2 separate regions of the Homo sapiens genome follow, and region 1 is linked to region 2. The links come from fine-mapping of genetic effects on gene expression. Tissue or cell type: whole blood. Region 2 holds a variant in brackets; the other region holds the start of a gene. All regions are shown on one strand. Distances are from middle to middle.

Region 1 (7,761 bases), 53 kb after region 2:
TGTAACAGGCTACTTCTCCCTAGTCAGTCAGCAAATCAAAGTAGCATCTTTATGTCCTTAGTGTCCTTTATGTCCATAGAGATGGCACAGAGAGCTGGACAGAGCCCAGGCAGAGCACAGCAGAGTCAGAGAGACCCACTGTGTGACACAGGGCAGCTGCCTCCACTGCCCTAGGCCCGGTTTCACCTGTTGTTGTGAATATCAATGAGATGATGGGCATAAAGGGGCCCAAGACAGGAAGAGGCTGGTTGACGTAATGACTATCTTAATATACTCCCTCACATTTGCATGGTGCTTCATAATTGAACACAAAAAACTTTAACAACCCAGTAAGGTAAGCAGGGAGTGATTAAGAGATCCATTTTAAGGATAAAATAACAAGGTTCAGAGAAGTTACGTAGGGAGGACAGACAGATGGACTTTAAAAGGAAAGAGAACAGGACCGGGGGTAGAACACGTGGGTAGAAATGCTAACTTTCCCACTATCCAGCCGCAGGAGCTTGGCCAAGTCTCTTGGCCTCTCTGGACATCAGTTACTCCATCTTATCTGAGAGAGTTTCTAGCTGGTCTCTATCTTAAAAGGGTCCCTCAGCCCTGACATTCTAGTTTCCTGTGATCTGCCCAGGGTCCTTCCCAGCAGGACTGTACAAAAGGGCTGCGAGTCCCAGGACAGGGTCCCTAGTTACTCCCAGGAAACCAGTCAGAACTGGAAGACTTGACTTAAGAATCAGTTGCATTTTGATTCAGTCAAATAGAGCTACAAGCCTGGGGGTGGGTTAGTCAAGCCCAGAACTGGGGGAAAAAATTGCAGCATCAAACTATATGTAAACACAATATAATCGCAAAATATAAATGCAAATGCAAAACCAAACAGGAAACCTCAGGGAAGTCTAATCCAAAGTTCAGACTCTAACTTTTTGGGCCCTGAGATGCTGAAGAGAAAAGCTGTGTTTGGGTGCCGCAAGCCTTTCTGTTGTAACAATGAACCTCTACGTGCACCAAACCAAAAATCTGAAGGCAAAGGAGGATGGGTTTTGTCTTGCCTGAACTGGGGCAAAGCTGAGCCCTGAACAGAGCCTGCTGTGGCCTCCAGACCCATTCTAAGGGTCCCTCCCCCAACACACAGTGCTTACACTTACACAGCCAGGCAAGGCCAGATGTATGGGCATAAATGGGCATTTCTGTCCATGGATAAGGTTCATATTGGAGCCCCTTCTCCTGCTCTAAGATTCTAATGAACAACCTGGGGAGGAGGATGAACCATGAAATCCCTAAGAATGTGGATGGCACTGAGCTATTCTGGGTCATGAAATGTGAGGCTATGAAGACAAATCTCAGGAAGCTCTCCAAAGGATGGGCTGGACAGCAGTGTTTCCCTGTGAGCCCCACAGTAAAATATAACCCACATCCACAGGCAGTGGACTCTGCCCAAGGAAGGAAGCCAAATCTGACCGGCTGCTTCTTATTTTAATAAAACATGTACCCCTACTATGTGCAAAGTAGTAGGCTAGGCTCCGTGAGACAAATGAGACAAGGTGAGGCTCTGTGAGACAAATGAAGACAAAAGAGACCCAATCACTGTCTAAAGAGATCTGCCGATTAATCTGACGATAATCATTCCATTTATCAAGAGGCATGGGCCAGTGCAGCGGCTCACACCTATAATCCTAGTACTTTGAGAGGCCAAGGCGGATAGACTGCCTGAGCTCAGGAGTTCAAGAACAGCCTGACCAACATGGTGAAACCCTGTCTCTACTAAAAATACAAATATTAGCCGGGTGTGGTGGAGCATGCCTGTAATTCCAGCTGCTTGGGAGGCTGAGGAATGAGAATTGCTTGAACCCGGGAGGCAGAGATTGCAGTCAGCTGAGATCGCACCACTGTACTCCAGCCTGGGAGACAGAGCAAGACTCTGTCTCCAAAAAAAAGATGCATGCTTTATATGCATTGTCTCATGTGAGGTACACATTATTACCCCCATTCCACAGATGACAGGACAGGTCACATGCCCACGTTCACCCAAATGGCAAACTGCAGAGCCAGCGTTTGAAAAAAGGTCTGCCTTGGCCGGCGCGGTGGCTCACGCCTGTAATCCCAGCACTTTGGGAGGCCGAGACGGGCGGATCATGAGGTCAGGAGATCGAGACCATCCTGGCTAACACGGTGAAACCCCGTCTCTACTAAAAATACAAAAAAAAAATTAGCCAGGCGTAGTGGCGGGAGCCTGTAGTCCCAGCTACTCGGGAGGCTGAGGCAGGAGAATGGTGTGAACCTGGGAGGCGGAGTTTGCATTGAGCCAAGATCGCGTCACTGCACTCCAGCCTGGGCGACACAGCGAGACTCCGTCTCAAAAAAAAAAAAGGAAAGAAAAAAGGTCTGCCTTCCCCAAAGTCGATGCTCCTTCCACAATCCTCTATCACCCTTACAAAGTGATACAAACAGACTCCGAGATGGAGGGTCACCCTGACAAGAGAGAAGAGGACAGATTTCCTGACACTGGCGCAGGGTGTTATGAACTACTGAGCTTTGTATCTGCCACGCAGTGGGTGCCTAGTACACTTAAGGTGAAGGGTGGAAGGCTAGAGCCGTTGCTGAGGTCCAAAATGCCACCCAAATTGAGGGCATCCTTTGGATGGGGAGCTGCAAAAACACATTATTCTCCGTTGGACCAAGGCCACGGGGTGTCTGTCCTAGAATATTCTTTGCAGAGGAGCTGCGGAAAGCTGCAGCAGGTTCAGAGAAGAGGAATGGAAGGAACTCCGAAGAGCATGGGAATGGGGTGGGGCAGCCTGCAAGACCGAAAGAAAAGGCCTGGGACGCTTTGCTGGGAAAGACAAAGAGGAGAGGGGAGGGGAGAGGAGACGATAAACTTGCCAACAGCCCGGCCAAGGTGAACCCCGGCTCCTGGCGCCTTCCCATCCGCATTCATTCCACAAACGCGGGCCAAATCTCCGAACCAGCCGCAAGCGGGAGGGGGCCTCTCTGCAGCCGGGGGGAAGAAAGTTCAGGACTGAGGCGGGAAGCCTGCCTCTCAGAAGGGGAGTGACTCGGGGGGCACACTTGTGGGGCTCCGAAGATGAAAACGCAAACTGAGGCTGGAAGGCGCTAGGCAAACACATATGTGATGAGGCGGTCACGCGGGGCACTTGGGGTACGTCCCCCGACCTGTGGAGTTTGTCATCGAAGAGACCTCGAGGCCCCCCAAAACGGTCCCTCGGGCCTTCCCCCGCCTCGACGGTGAGGACGCAGCTGTTGGAGATGCGCTCGGTCCTCCCAGACCTAGGGAGGGGGCAGGTTTCGGGGCGCGGTGAAGGGCCATCGCAGCTCGGGTGCGACACGCCTGTGGAGGTCAAGGCCAGGCCCGGCGCCGACCCCCGACCCCTCCCGCCTCGGCCCCCTCACCTCCTCCCGCGCCAGCGCCGCCCCTCGGTACCGGGGCATCTTGGCGGCGAAGGCGGCGGCCCCAGCCGGGGAGCTGAGGTCCTCCGCGGTGACGGCCAGGAACTCGGCGACGCTGAACTGCTCCGGCATGGCGGGCGCGAGCGTGGAGCTGCCGGAGCGGGGCGCGGGGGGCACTGAGCTGCTCCGCGCTGAGCCGGCCTCACCGCCGGCCGGGGGCGCCGTCCCGGCCTCCACACGCCCCGCCCCTCCGCACGCCCCGCCCCCGACCCTCCAGCCGCTCTCCGCTCCTCAGCTGGGACGGCCCCGCCCCCGGCTCCTCGCCTTCCTCCACCGCCAAGGTCCAGGCTCCGGCCCCGGTCCCGGCCCCGCACCGCGTCAGGCCGCTTCCCCGGCCCCTCGCCGGCCCCCTAGGCCACGCCCCCAGCCCCTCACCGCCTCAGACCCCGCCCCCTGGCGCGATGCCCCACCCCTGGCCTCAGTAGAAACTCCTCCGCCTTCCCCCATCCCTGCCCCTTCAGGGCTCTGTCCCGTTTCATCCCGCTCTGGGTCTTCCAAATCCTCCTCCCTTGCACGGCCCAGGCTGTTCCATCTCCGCGTCGAGTCTTAGAGCCCCCTCCCTCTTCCTCCCTCCTCTGCTGATTCGTTCCGAGTTCCCCATGACCTCGCCCCTTCTGCCCTACCACCCCCCCGCCACCCTTCCCTCCTCTCTCCCCAGTCCCGCCCAATCTCCTTGCCTCGCTCCGCCCCGAATCGCCCCACCCCTCCTTTGCTGCGTACGCCCAGCTCTCAGCCTCAGCTTTGCAGGCATCCGGAGACTCCCTCCTGATAACCCCCGCCGCCCCGGGGATGTGTGGATCGGGGCCCCTGGCTAGCTGTGTGACTTGGGGAAAATTACTTCTCTTCTGGAACCTCAGTTTCCTTATCTGTACAATGGGAAGCCTGATGCCCGCTTGATTGTGATGTTGCGAAGAACCGAACACGTGCGTGTACTAGTTCCCTCTTACCCGACCATAGATCGCACCCACGCCTTTACTCTTCCTGCTCCTGCCTTTCACCCCTTAATCTGGCTCACCATCCTTTGGGGCGGATGAGGGATGGGGTTCAGGATAGAAATCCACTTAGGTTTAGTTCTGAAGCCTGAGGTCCTCTGGGGAAAAGTTCTCCAAGTAAAAAGCTAGGAAAGCACCGCAGCAAGGAACATTGGTTTTGGAGTCAGAGGAACCTAGATTCCAATCTTGGTTACTTTGGATAAATTGCTTGCTTCTCTAAGCCTGCATTTCCCCCTCTTAAAATGGCCTCATGGTATTTTACCCCACAGGGCGGCGATTGAGAGAATCTTTTCTTTTCTCGCACAGAAAAGAAAAGAAAAGAAAAAATCCGGAAAGATATGCACTAAAATGTTGCACCAGCAACATTTTATGCACTAGCTGAAGACAGATATGCACTAGCTGAAGACATTATGAGTAACTTTCTTTTCTTTTGGTGAATCTGTATATCCTAACTTTTATACAATGACCATATACTACTGTGTAATAGAATTAAAAGTTGACGGGAGCGATGGCTCATGCCTGTAATCTTAGCACTTTGGGAAGCCGAGGTGAGCGGATTGTTCAGGAGTTCAAGGCCAACCTGAGCAACATGGCGAAACCTTGTCTCTACAAAATATACAAAAATTAGCCCGGCGTGGTGGCTCTTGCCTGTAGTCCCAGCTACTTGGTGGGCTGAGGCAGGAAAATGGCTTAAACCTGGGAGGTCAAGTTTGCAGTGAGCTGAGATCCTGCCATTGCACTCCAGCCTGGGTGACAAAGTGAGACCCTGTCTCAAAAAAAAAAAAAAAGAAAAAGAAAAAGAAAAGAAAGAAAAAAGAATTAAAAGTTGAAAAAAATGTGTACCATCTGATAGAGACGACAACTATTCCAAGAGTTCTTTCAAGGTCAACTTCTCCTGTTGAAACCAAATAGGCACTTTTCTTGTTATTTATTTTTAGAGACAAGGTCTCACTCTGTCGCCCAGGCTGAAGTGCAGTGCAATGATCATAGCTCAAGGCAGCCTCAAACTCCTGAGCTTAGGCACTTTTCTTGCTTGACTTTTAGGAGCATCTGACAATGTTAACCACTCCCTTCTCCTTGAAACACCCTTGCCCCTGAATCCTAGGAGAACTATTTTCTTTGGTGGCCCTCTCCCTCTGGCTGTTCCAAGAGCCCTTTCTGAGATGCACTTCCTCCGCAGGGATCTTAAATGCTGGAGTTGTTGGGAGCTCTCTGCTAAATCCTCTGCATGTCTCACTCTATCAGCCTTCCTGGATTTCTTCATCCAATCCCAACGGTAATGTTGATGTCTTCTGTACTAGTTTCCTGTTGCTACTATAACAAATCACCAATAACTTCCCTCAGCCTCCCGAGTAGCTGGGATTACAGGCACGTGCCACCACACCCAGCTAATTTTTGTATTTTTTAGTAGAGACGGGGTTTCGCCGTGTTGGCCAGGCTGGTCTTGAACTTCTGACCTCAGGTGATCCGCCCACCTCGGCCTCCCAGAGTGCTGGGATTACAGGCATGAGCCACTGCGCCTGGCCACATTTATTCTTTTACATGTCTGGAGGTCACAAGTCTGCAATAACTTTCACTGGGCTAAAATCAAGGTATCAGTGGGGCTGTACTTCCTCTGGATGCTATAAGGGAGCATCTGTTTTCTTGCTTTTGCAGCTTCGAGAGCTGTAGTTTTTGCATTCTTTGGCTTATGGCACCTTCCACCTTCAAGGGCAGCAGCATCTTCAAGCATCTTACTTGCCTTCTTCCCTGTGATCAAATTTCTCCCAGCCTCCCCACCCCTCTTCTTTTTGTTTTTTTTTTGTTTTTTTTGAGACGGAGTTTCACTCTTGTTGCCCAGGCTGAAGTGCAATGGTGCGATCTCAGCTCACCACAACCTCCGCCTCCCGGGTTCCAGCGATTCTCCTGCCTCAGCCTCCAGAGTAGCTGGGATTACAGGCATGCGCCACTATGCCCGGCTAATTTTGTATGTTTAGTAGAGATGGGGTTTCTCAATGTTGGTCCTCGAACTCCTGACCTTAGGAGATCCACCCGCGTCGGCCTCCGAAAGTTCTGGGATTACAGGCATGAGCCACGGCGCCCGGCCCCCTCTTTTTTTTTTTTTTTTTTTTTTTTTTTGAGGCAGGGTCTCATTCTGTCACTCCAAGCAGTGGAGTGATCACAGCTCCCTGAAGTCTCAACCTCCTGGGCTTTTGCGATCCTCCCACCTCAGCCTCCCAAGTAGCTGGGACTGCAGGTGCATGACACCACGCCCAGCTAGTTCAACCTCTCTCTTTTTTTTTTTTTTTTTTTTGAGACGTGATGCCTCTCTGTCGCCCAGGCTGGAGTGCAGTGGTGTGATCTCAGCTCACTGCAACCTCTGCTTCACAGGTTCAAGGGATTTTTGTGCCTCAGCCTCCTGAGTAGCTAGAATTACAGGCCCATGCCACCACACCCAGCTAATTTTTTATTTTTATTTTTTATTTACTTATATTTTTATTTTTTGTATTTTTAGTACAGACAGGGTTTCATCATGTTGGCCAGACTGGTCTCCAACTCCTGACCTCAAGTGGTCCACCCACCTGGACCTCTCAAAGTGCTCAGCCTCCCTCTTATAAGGACATTTGTGATTACATTTAGGGCCTATCCAGATAATCCAGGATAATCTCCCCATCTCAAAATCCTTAATTTAATCACACCTGCAAAATCTCTTTTGCTATATAAGTGCCATTTACAGGTTCCATGGATTAGGACCTGGATATCTTTGGGAGCCATTACTGAGCCAATCACATCTTCCAAGGCTGTATTTCCAGCCTGGACTCTTCTCTAGTTCAAGATCTATGTATCCAGCCACCTATGAGACAGTTTCATTTCACTGGCTCACAGACAGACACCTTAAACTCTACAGGTCCAAAACTGAACTCACCATCTCGTACGCCCACTCCTTGCACCAGATTGTTTTCTGTCCCTGTCTTGATGGAAGGCATTACCATGCACCCCCTCGGAGTCATCCTCTCCTCCCTTCTTCTACCAACCTCCCCTCAAACAAGTCTTGTCACTAGTCTCACCAGTGAGACCACCTTCTCCATCTGCAGGCCAACCCCAGTCCAGACCACTGCCACCTCTCACTTCCTCGCTGGTCTCCCTGCCCCTAATCTTGCATATCTGTTCTGTTGCTCCTCTACTTAGAACTCTTCAGTGCCCCCCGCATTGCTCTCTGAATAAAAGCCAAACTTGTTTTCATGGATGTCTAGCCCTGCATGGTCTTGCTGCTCCTGCCATTCACAGGCTGATCTCTTGCCTCTCTGTCCCCACTGTGATTGAGCCCCTT
Region 2 (7,761 bases):
GAAACCAGAGTTGGTGGAAAACATCATTTCTTCACTCTCGATGGGACAACCTGAAGGCATGTTCTAGTCAATACTCCTTCTCACAGGTCCCCAACAAGAGTTAGAGACAGAGTCTCGCTCTGTTGTTCAGGCTGGAGTGCAGTGGCGCCATCATGGCTCACTGCAGCCTTGAACTCCTGGGCTCAAGCAATTCTCCCACCCGAGTAGCTGGAGTATAGGTTCTCACCAACACGCACAGCTCTTTATCTTTGACTTTCTGTTTCATTTCTCTATTCCCTCATTATGCTTCCTGGGATCATTTCACAGATAAGCTACTTGCTCCCAAATCCTTGTCTCAGGGGCAGTCAACAGAGACAGTGGCAGAGGACCATGGGAGAGCTAGAATTTCAGGTCTCCAGACTCCTAGTCCAGTGCTCTTTCCAGGGTTTCTCAACCTTGGCACTATTAACATTTTGGACTGGATAATGCATTGCTAGGGAGGGTTGACCTATGCACCGTAGGATGTTTAGTAGCATCCCTGACCTTTGTCCACTAAATGCCACTAGCATCCTCCAGTTGGGAACAGTCAAAACTGTTTTCTGCTTTATCAGAAGTTCCCCGGGGCAAAACACTGTGGTTGCAAACCACTATTCCACATCAGGCCATCTCCCTTGCCAGGTCCAGAGAAAGAATTTCAAGCCCCAAGATTCCTTTCCCCTCCCTGTTGCTCTTTAGATCACATAAATGAAACCACTGGAAACTGACCCCCCAATCCTTTATTAGAGATGAGTGAAATAACAAGTCTGAGATGAATGAAACCAGACACTGGGGGCTCAAAAGACAACCCTGTTCCTGTGGGAACCACAGACCAGTCAGGTCTCCAGGGGAAACAGCACAGCCTCCCCAGCCAGGCAGCTGTGTTGGCCATTGGTGCTCTCTAGTCTCCCCTGCTTGGCTTGGCCCATTCCTGCCAGGGCCCAGCACCCAGCAACTGGCAAGTTGAGATGTTAGTGGTTGATGATGGCTTAGGTGTATCTGCTTTCTCATTGGGGCTGAGCAATGATAGAATTTCTAGGGCTGGGAAGCAGAACCCTTAAGTCTCTGCCCTCCCAATTCTATTACTCTCCCTTCTTTCTTTGCCTCTCCATTCCCTCAGACTAAAAGGCTCCTGAGTTGACCAAGAGAAAGAGAAGAGAAGTGGGCATCCATCAACCCTGACTATTCCTTTCCTTCCTGCTAAATCAAGGACACAGGCAAATGTGGGTGCATCTGACTCTACAATTTGGCTGGGGAATATAGGAGAATGCCTAGGGAAGGCTGTGCTGTCCCTCAAAAGGAGTGACATTCAGAATATTTTTATTTAACAGCCAGTACAGCATGCATGTTGACCAGCCAGAATGGATGTGATCTGTAGACAATTGTAATGGTCATATAGGTATAAACCAGCTGAGTCCAGAGCCATGCCCTGGAATCTGACCCTGCCTATTCCCAAGCCCAACCCTTAAGACCAGCTTTCCACCAAAGGACCACCCCTGCAGGGCCCTTGTCTTACTCGTGTGGTATCTGAAGTGCCTAACACAGGTCCAGACATAGAGTTGGAATTTAGTGAAGGAATATTAGACTAATAAATGGCTGGCTGAGAAGACAGTCCCTACTTGGCAGGGTCCCTGATCTGGAAGTCAGTGATGGAGGGCTCTCCTGCCCTTGTGAAGCCCCCAGACTGACGGGGGAAATAGAGTCTCGATCTGATGAGGGACTGAGAGTTCTGCAGCTGAAGCCAGCTCAGGAGCACTCAGATCCAGCCACAGGGCTCCCAGGCCCCTAGCGGGTAATGAGATAGGAAAGAACCGCCATCAGTCCTAACAGGGAAAGGCCATGTGTCCTTGGTAGAGGCATGGCCTGTGGCAGGAAGAAGGCCAGCTACAGAGGCACAAGGGACAGAGAGAGTGAGATCCAAGAGAACAAATGTCTCAGCTCCCCAGTTTTGTGAGCTCAAGTCCCAGCTCTGAACATTGGGGCCTAGCATGGGGCATGTGGGGGCCAGCAAGGAGCTAGTCTTGCAAAAGTTGCACAGAACTTGCTGGGAGACTCCCAGTCCTTGAGCCATCTCCTTCAGTGATGCCAACCTGCAGAAAGAAGGATGAAACTGACATTTTCAAAGCACCTGTAACATACCAGGTGTTCATCTCACTCAGTTTCACATCTGTCCTATTGTAGATAAATTAAATTATTCTCATTTTACAGACAAAGAAACTGAGGCTTGAGGAAGTGAAGCCACTTATCCAAAGTCTCCTTACTCTAAAGCCCAAGCTCTTGCTATCATACACACCACAATCACAGGCATCAATTAAATGCCATCTGATGGATACTTGGTTTTCAGGGCAATAGTGGAACCAGAATATGGACATAGATTTGTGTCTGCTGACTAACTCTGGTGGACTAAAGATGACGATTCCCCAGACAGAACCAGCTTTTGCCCCTGCCATCCTGACTCCCAACACAACCAATGCCATTCTGAGGAATTCCCAGAGGAACAAGGGACAGAAGAGGCTTCTTTCCCAACACAACTGGCTCTGATCTGTGCCCACTCCTAGGTTCAACTAATATATGCCATTGTTGGAGACTTGGTGATTCAGCAGGGAGAAGCTGGATTAAGGATGACAGCTCTTGCCCTGTCCCTGTCACATCCCTCTATGCCTGGGATCTGAAAGTCCCTGTGGATTCCAGGAGACTCATGAACAAGGGGAGAGTTAGGCAAACAAGGGCTGGTACACGGCCACCTAATCCTGCCTCTTCTGCAGGGAAGTGATGCCTTCTCTGAGCGACTGGCCTGGCTAACACAACTTTCCTCATCCTCCCCTGGGGAGAAGCCAGAGCTTGGGCCTCATGATCACTGCCATCCCTCAAGGCCTGGGCTCTCCTCAGCTTCACCCAGCCCTGGGCTGGAGCATGGAAAGAGGAGCACCAGGACAGGGACTGGCCAAACTGCAGCCACCTGGGCACCAGGACAGGGACTGGCCAAACCGTGGCCACCTGGGCACCAGGACAGGGACTGGCCAAACCGTGCCCACCTGGGCACCAGGACAGGGACTGTCCAAACTGTGGCTGCCTGGGCCCATCTGTACCCCAACCATGGGGAGGTCTCCCACCCCAATACGCCTACTCTTGACTAACTCTGCCTCCCAGGCACCCTGCCACCGCCCCTCAAACCATGGTCCCAGAGTTCCTACCGGCACGTTCCTTCTGGGCAGAGGCTGCCTGGCTGAGGGACCATCTTCAGGGCTCCGCGCCCCCCGCCGATAGGAGCGAGTGCTCTCGGAGCTGGAAGGCAGGGAAAGGCCAACATGACCCTCATGTCCAGAGAGCCCCTCAGAGTGGGGAGAAAGGGCTCAGGAACAGAGCCAGTCTGGGGGCTTAGGATGGGTGGGTAGAGTCCACAAGGCCCCCAGGCCAGGTCCATCACAGGCCCAAGAAGGCTGGAACTGACCTCCAGAAGACTCTGTGGATATCTGCAGGTCTACTTCTCCCCAAACTCCAGACTGAATGGGTTTGTATGGAAGGGAGAAGACTGGATCCTGGGTTGGAGGTGGGGACAGAGTGAAGACCCCACTGAGAGCCTCTAGAATAAGCCACACAGGGGGCTAAGCCTACTTTACTCCAACATCAGCAGGGAGGATCCCTGGCTCCTCCTCAGCTCTCCATGCAGGATTTGGGAGCAAGTGTGTGAAGGGGGAAGGGGTCCCAGGGTTCAGCATTTCTGCATAAGTGATGGGCCCAGAGATGGCGTGTGACCCAGTCTTTAGGCAGGTACTATTTAGAGGTGTGGAAATCAATGGATGCTCAGAGAAGTCAGGGGATTTGCCCTGGTTGCACAGCTGGGCCCTCACCAACCTGAATCTGACGGGGAGGTACATCTCCGAAGGGGTGGTCCCGGATGTCAGGCTGGGTCTGGAGGTGCCTGGGGGCTCTCGGAGGCCCTCTTCAGAGTTGGGTGGGGCTTGGCTGGGATCCCCAGGTTCCAAGGGGCTCATCAGACTGGAGGAGGAGGCTGGACTGCCCAGGCTCTCAGGGGTCTCAGGGGCCTCTGAACTCAGGCTGGAGACTTCAGAACGATCTGGAATCAGAAACATCAGAAATGATAAAGCTTTTCTTTATCACTTGCTCTGTGCCCAACCTCAAAGCAGTCTCTGGCCTCTAGGA[T/TA]TTTTTTTTTTTTTTTTTTTGAGACAGAGTCTCACTCTGTCACCCAGGCTGGAGTGCAGTGGTGCAATCTCGGCTCATTGCAACCTCCGCCTCCCAGGTTCAAGAGATTCTCCTGCCTCAGCCTCCAGAGTAGCTGGGATTACAGGTGCATGCCACCACACCTGGCTAATTTTTGCATTTTTAGTAGAGATGGGGTTTCACCATGTTGGCTGGGCTGGTCTCAAAATCCTTACCTGGGGTGATCCGCCTGCTTCGGCCTCCCAAAGTGCAGAGATTACAGGCACGAGCCACCACATCTGGCCTAGGATCTCTTCTGGTTCTCTGCCAATAGTCCATTCCCCATCTACCTGTCCAGTATTCTCCTTCAACTGATGAAGCCTTTGTTCGCGGTGGCCAGGGCCATGCTGACTCACTTTTTTGCTTGTGCTCATACCCTGTCCCAGTTTGGATTCTCCTGCTCATCCCTCAGGTTCACTCATATGCTATCCTCACCAGGAAGCCTTCTTAAACCAACCCCCAATCCCAGCAGGACATGCTCCCTCTCCAACTGCCCCAACCTCCCACAACAAGTCTGTTCCTTCATTCGACAAATAGTTCTTGAGAACAGCCAGGCTCTGCGCTAGGCACTGGACAAATAGTATTCAATGAAACACTCAAAGTCCTTGTCCTTTTGGGATTTACATTCTATATCACATTGTGCCTTGTATTATAATGAATTGCATTCCAGTTTTTATCTCCCCTACTAGACTGTGTCTTGGTAGCCCTCAAAGGACTCAGGATGAAGGGGATGCTCAATAAACTCGTTTCTCTCTTGTTAAGTGGAGCATTGAGGAATTTGGAATAAGATGGGCTGAGATTTGAATCCTACATCAGAGACTTATTAGCTGTGGGATCTTAAACATGTGACTTAACACCTCTGTTCTTTTATCTGTAAGGGGAAGATGAGAACCCCTTCCTGGGAGGTCATCATAAGGATAGTACGGACTAACATATGCACTCAGCTCAGTGCCCCAGCATATACAGGTCCTCTGTGAATGGCATGGTGAGCATTTATCTGGGCATCCAACTGTACCTCCACTGGCATGTCTTGCACACCCTTGGACCAAAGTCCGAGAAGAGTTTTTGACTGGCAAGGGCGGGGGACAGTCCTCACTCTCGCCCTGAGGGGTGGCTGCTCCCAGGCTGGCGACAGTCTCATAGGTCTTGTTGCTGATGTCCAGCCTCCCACTGGCCCAGTGAGCCTGGGCCGGGAGCTTCAGCAAGCAGCGCTGCCAGAGCAAAAGATTGAGGATGAGGACAGCCTGGTTCCTCCGGTGTAGCCCTGTCCCCCCGCCTCACCGCCCCCGCCAACACACACCAGGCCCAATCTGGCTCTTTCCTTCTGCCATCCAGAGGCCTGAGGGACAGGGCTGGGACCCACCTTCTCTTCCTCATCCTCCTCACTGTCAGAGCCAGGCTCTGTGGAAATTACCCAGGAGTAGTCCACATGTAGAGGGAAGGCAAAGGTCCCCGCCTGGGCCTGCTCCAGCTGCCAAAAACAAAGGCTTGGTGGTTCAGAGGGTTGGGGGCTCAGCAGGGAGAGAGAAAGAGTCAGGGGCCCCTTGCCTCCCCGAGTCCTCACCAGCTCCTCACACTCCTTGTGGTGCTTCTTCCTGGCTATGTCCAGAGCTGTCTCGCCTGCTTCATTTACTGTGAGCGGGGAAAGTCAGGGTTCATGGTCATAGTCAAAGAAACATTACAGCTTAGAGATTAAGACGGGCCTCTGGAATCAGAATGTATGGGTTTGAATCCTGGCTCTGCCATTTTCTGGCTATGTGACCATAGGCAAGTTATATAACCTTTTGGGACAAAATTGTTTATGAAATGAGTATAATACTTGGAACTACCTGATGAAGTGGTTGTGAGGATTCAATTAATTAACATACAAAAAGCACTTGTCCCATTGCCAGGCATATGTTAAACAATACATATTAGCTATTACAATCATTATCATTCAGATCTAGCTAATATTTATTTGCCTAAGTACTCCCAGAAATATTATTTTCTTTTTTCTTTAGCAGTCCTGCTAGGTCAGTGGTATTATTCCCATTTTACAGATGAGGAAGCTGAAATTCAAGAGCTGAATGACAAACCCCTAAGATCACAGAGGTGGTCAGAAGCAAGCCAGGATTAGAGCCCGAGACCATCGGAAGTCCACATAAGGGGTAGTCAGGAATAGGAGTCTGACGGAGGAGGTATTCAAGCCCCACCTGTGCCAACCAAAGCTCTCCCCTTCAGCAGCAGCTTGAGGCAGTCGGGCTGGTTGTAGAGTGCTGCGTAGTGCAGAGCCGTGTTCCCGTCAGCAGCCTTGGCATCCAGGTGACCACTGGGGAGAGGAGGGTTCAGGGAGAAAGGAAGGGGAACAGATCAATGAGGGGATCAAAGTCAGGGGAAAAAGTGGGAGGGGAAAGGAGGGAAGAGAATGGGAGAAGAGGAAGGAAAGGAGAGGGAGTGTGAGGAGCCAGACAGACAGGCAGGGAGGCTCTCACCCGTTCTGGATGATGAAATCCACCAGAGGCAGGGAAGCCTGGTTGGCGACTTTGACAGCCAAATGCAAGACGAGTTCTTCAGGTGCCTGAAAACACATCCACACCTCTGAGATTCCCCCCCCAGTGCACCTGCCTCCAACCCAGTATTTCCCTCTTGAACTCTTGCTAACCCCTTATCCCCCCATAGGAAGCTGCCAGAACCCTGGAGAGATGAGACTGCAAGGGCAGAGCCTCATGTCTGGGAGGAAGGTGAAGGGCCATTCTCCCATTGTTCCCATTCACGGCTCTTCCTCCTCTGCCCCCAACAAGTGTTTCCCAAACTTCTTTCTCAGCTCTCGGCTCCTCTCCCTGATCGCACTTCCCCACCAAGACCTCAGCAACCTCACATTTTCAACTATCACACATGTGCAGGCTGTTCCAAATTCTTACCTCACCTAAGTGCTGCACTGCCCATTGGATAGCCCACCAAGATATCAGACAGACAGTTCAAAGATACCCGTTTTTAGTTTTTCTGAGACAGGGTCTCGCTTTGTCACCCAAGCTGGAGAGCAGTGGCGCAATCACAGCTCTCTGTAGCCTCAACCTCCTGGGCTCAAGCCACCCTCCCACCTCAGCCTTCTGAGTAGCTGGGACCACAGGTGTGTGCCACCATACCCAGCTAATTTTAGTTGTTGTTGTAGAGATGGGGGTTTCCTTATTTTGCCCAAGCTGATTCTGAACTCCTGGGCTCAAGTGATCCTTTCACTTTGGCCTCCCAAAGTGTTGGGATTACAGGCGTGAGCCACCACACCCAGCCAACATCCAATTTTTGATGTCGAATCAGTCAGCAACTCCTGTTGATTTACTTTTTCAAATGTCTCTGATATCCTTTCTCCATGCTCATGTGTTTGTTCTTGGAATAGCCAAAGCAATGTGGCCTTCCTGGCTCTAAACTGACATGCCCTTATATTTCAGGGCTATTTAGGTGAAAGAAAAAGATATTAACGTTTATTGCATGCCCATTGTACACTAAGCCCTTTATATACATGACTTCTCACTTCATCACCGTGGGTGC

The links. PIP is the estimated chance that this variant, and not a neighbour inherited with it, causes the effect.
Region 1: it holds the start of ASAP3, and the variant in region 2 is fine-mapped to the expression of ASAP3 in whole blood (INTERVAL, PIP above 0.99).

Annotation. Positions count from the first base shown.
Region 1 is chr1:23,480,603-23,488,363 of GRCh38, forward strand. ASAP3 (ArfGAP with SH3 domain, ankyrin repeat and PH domain 3) reads right to left here and starts at 3,577. Exons shown (of 25, transcript NM_017707.4): 1 at 3,403-3,577. The coding sequence starts at 3,531. RefSeq lists silencers at 3,412-3,861, 3,982-4,091, 4,102-4,151 and an enhancer at 4,342-4,441.
Region 2 is chr1:23,427,826-23,435,586 of GRCh38, forward strand. It overlaps ASAP3 (ArfGAP with SH3 domain, ankyrin repeat and PH domain 3), which reads right to left. Exons shown (of 25, transcript NM_017707.4): 18 at 6,708-6,793; 19 at 6,429-6,544; 20 at 5,801-5,868; 21 at 5,600-5,707; 22 at 5,252-5,447; 23 at 3,871-4,093; 24 at 3,210-3,300; 25 at 738-2,105. The coding sequence ends at 2,031. LOC124903875 (a long non-coding RNA gene) reads left to right here. Exons shown (of 3, transcript XR_007065535.1): 3 at 1-1,158. Among named protein-coding and RNA genes, the nearest start is that of TCEA3, 7.0 kb to the left of the region's middle. The variant T/TA (reference allele first, on the strand shown) is at 4,180.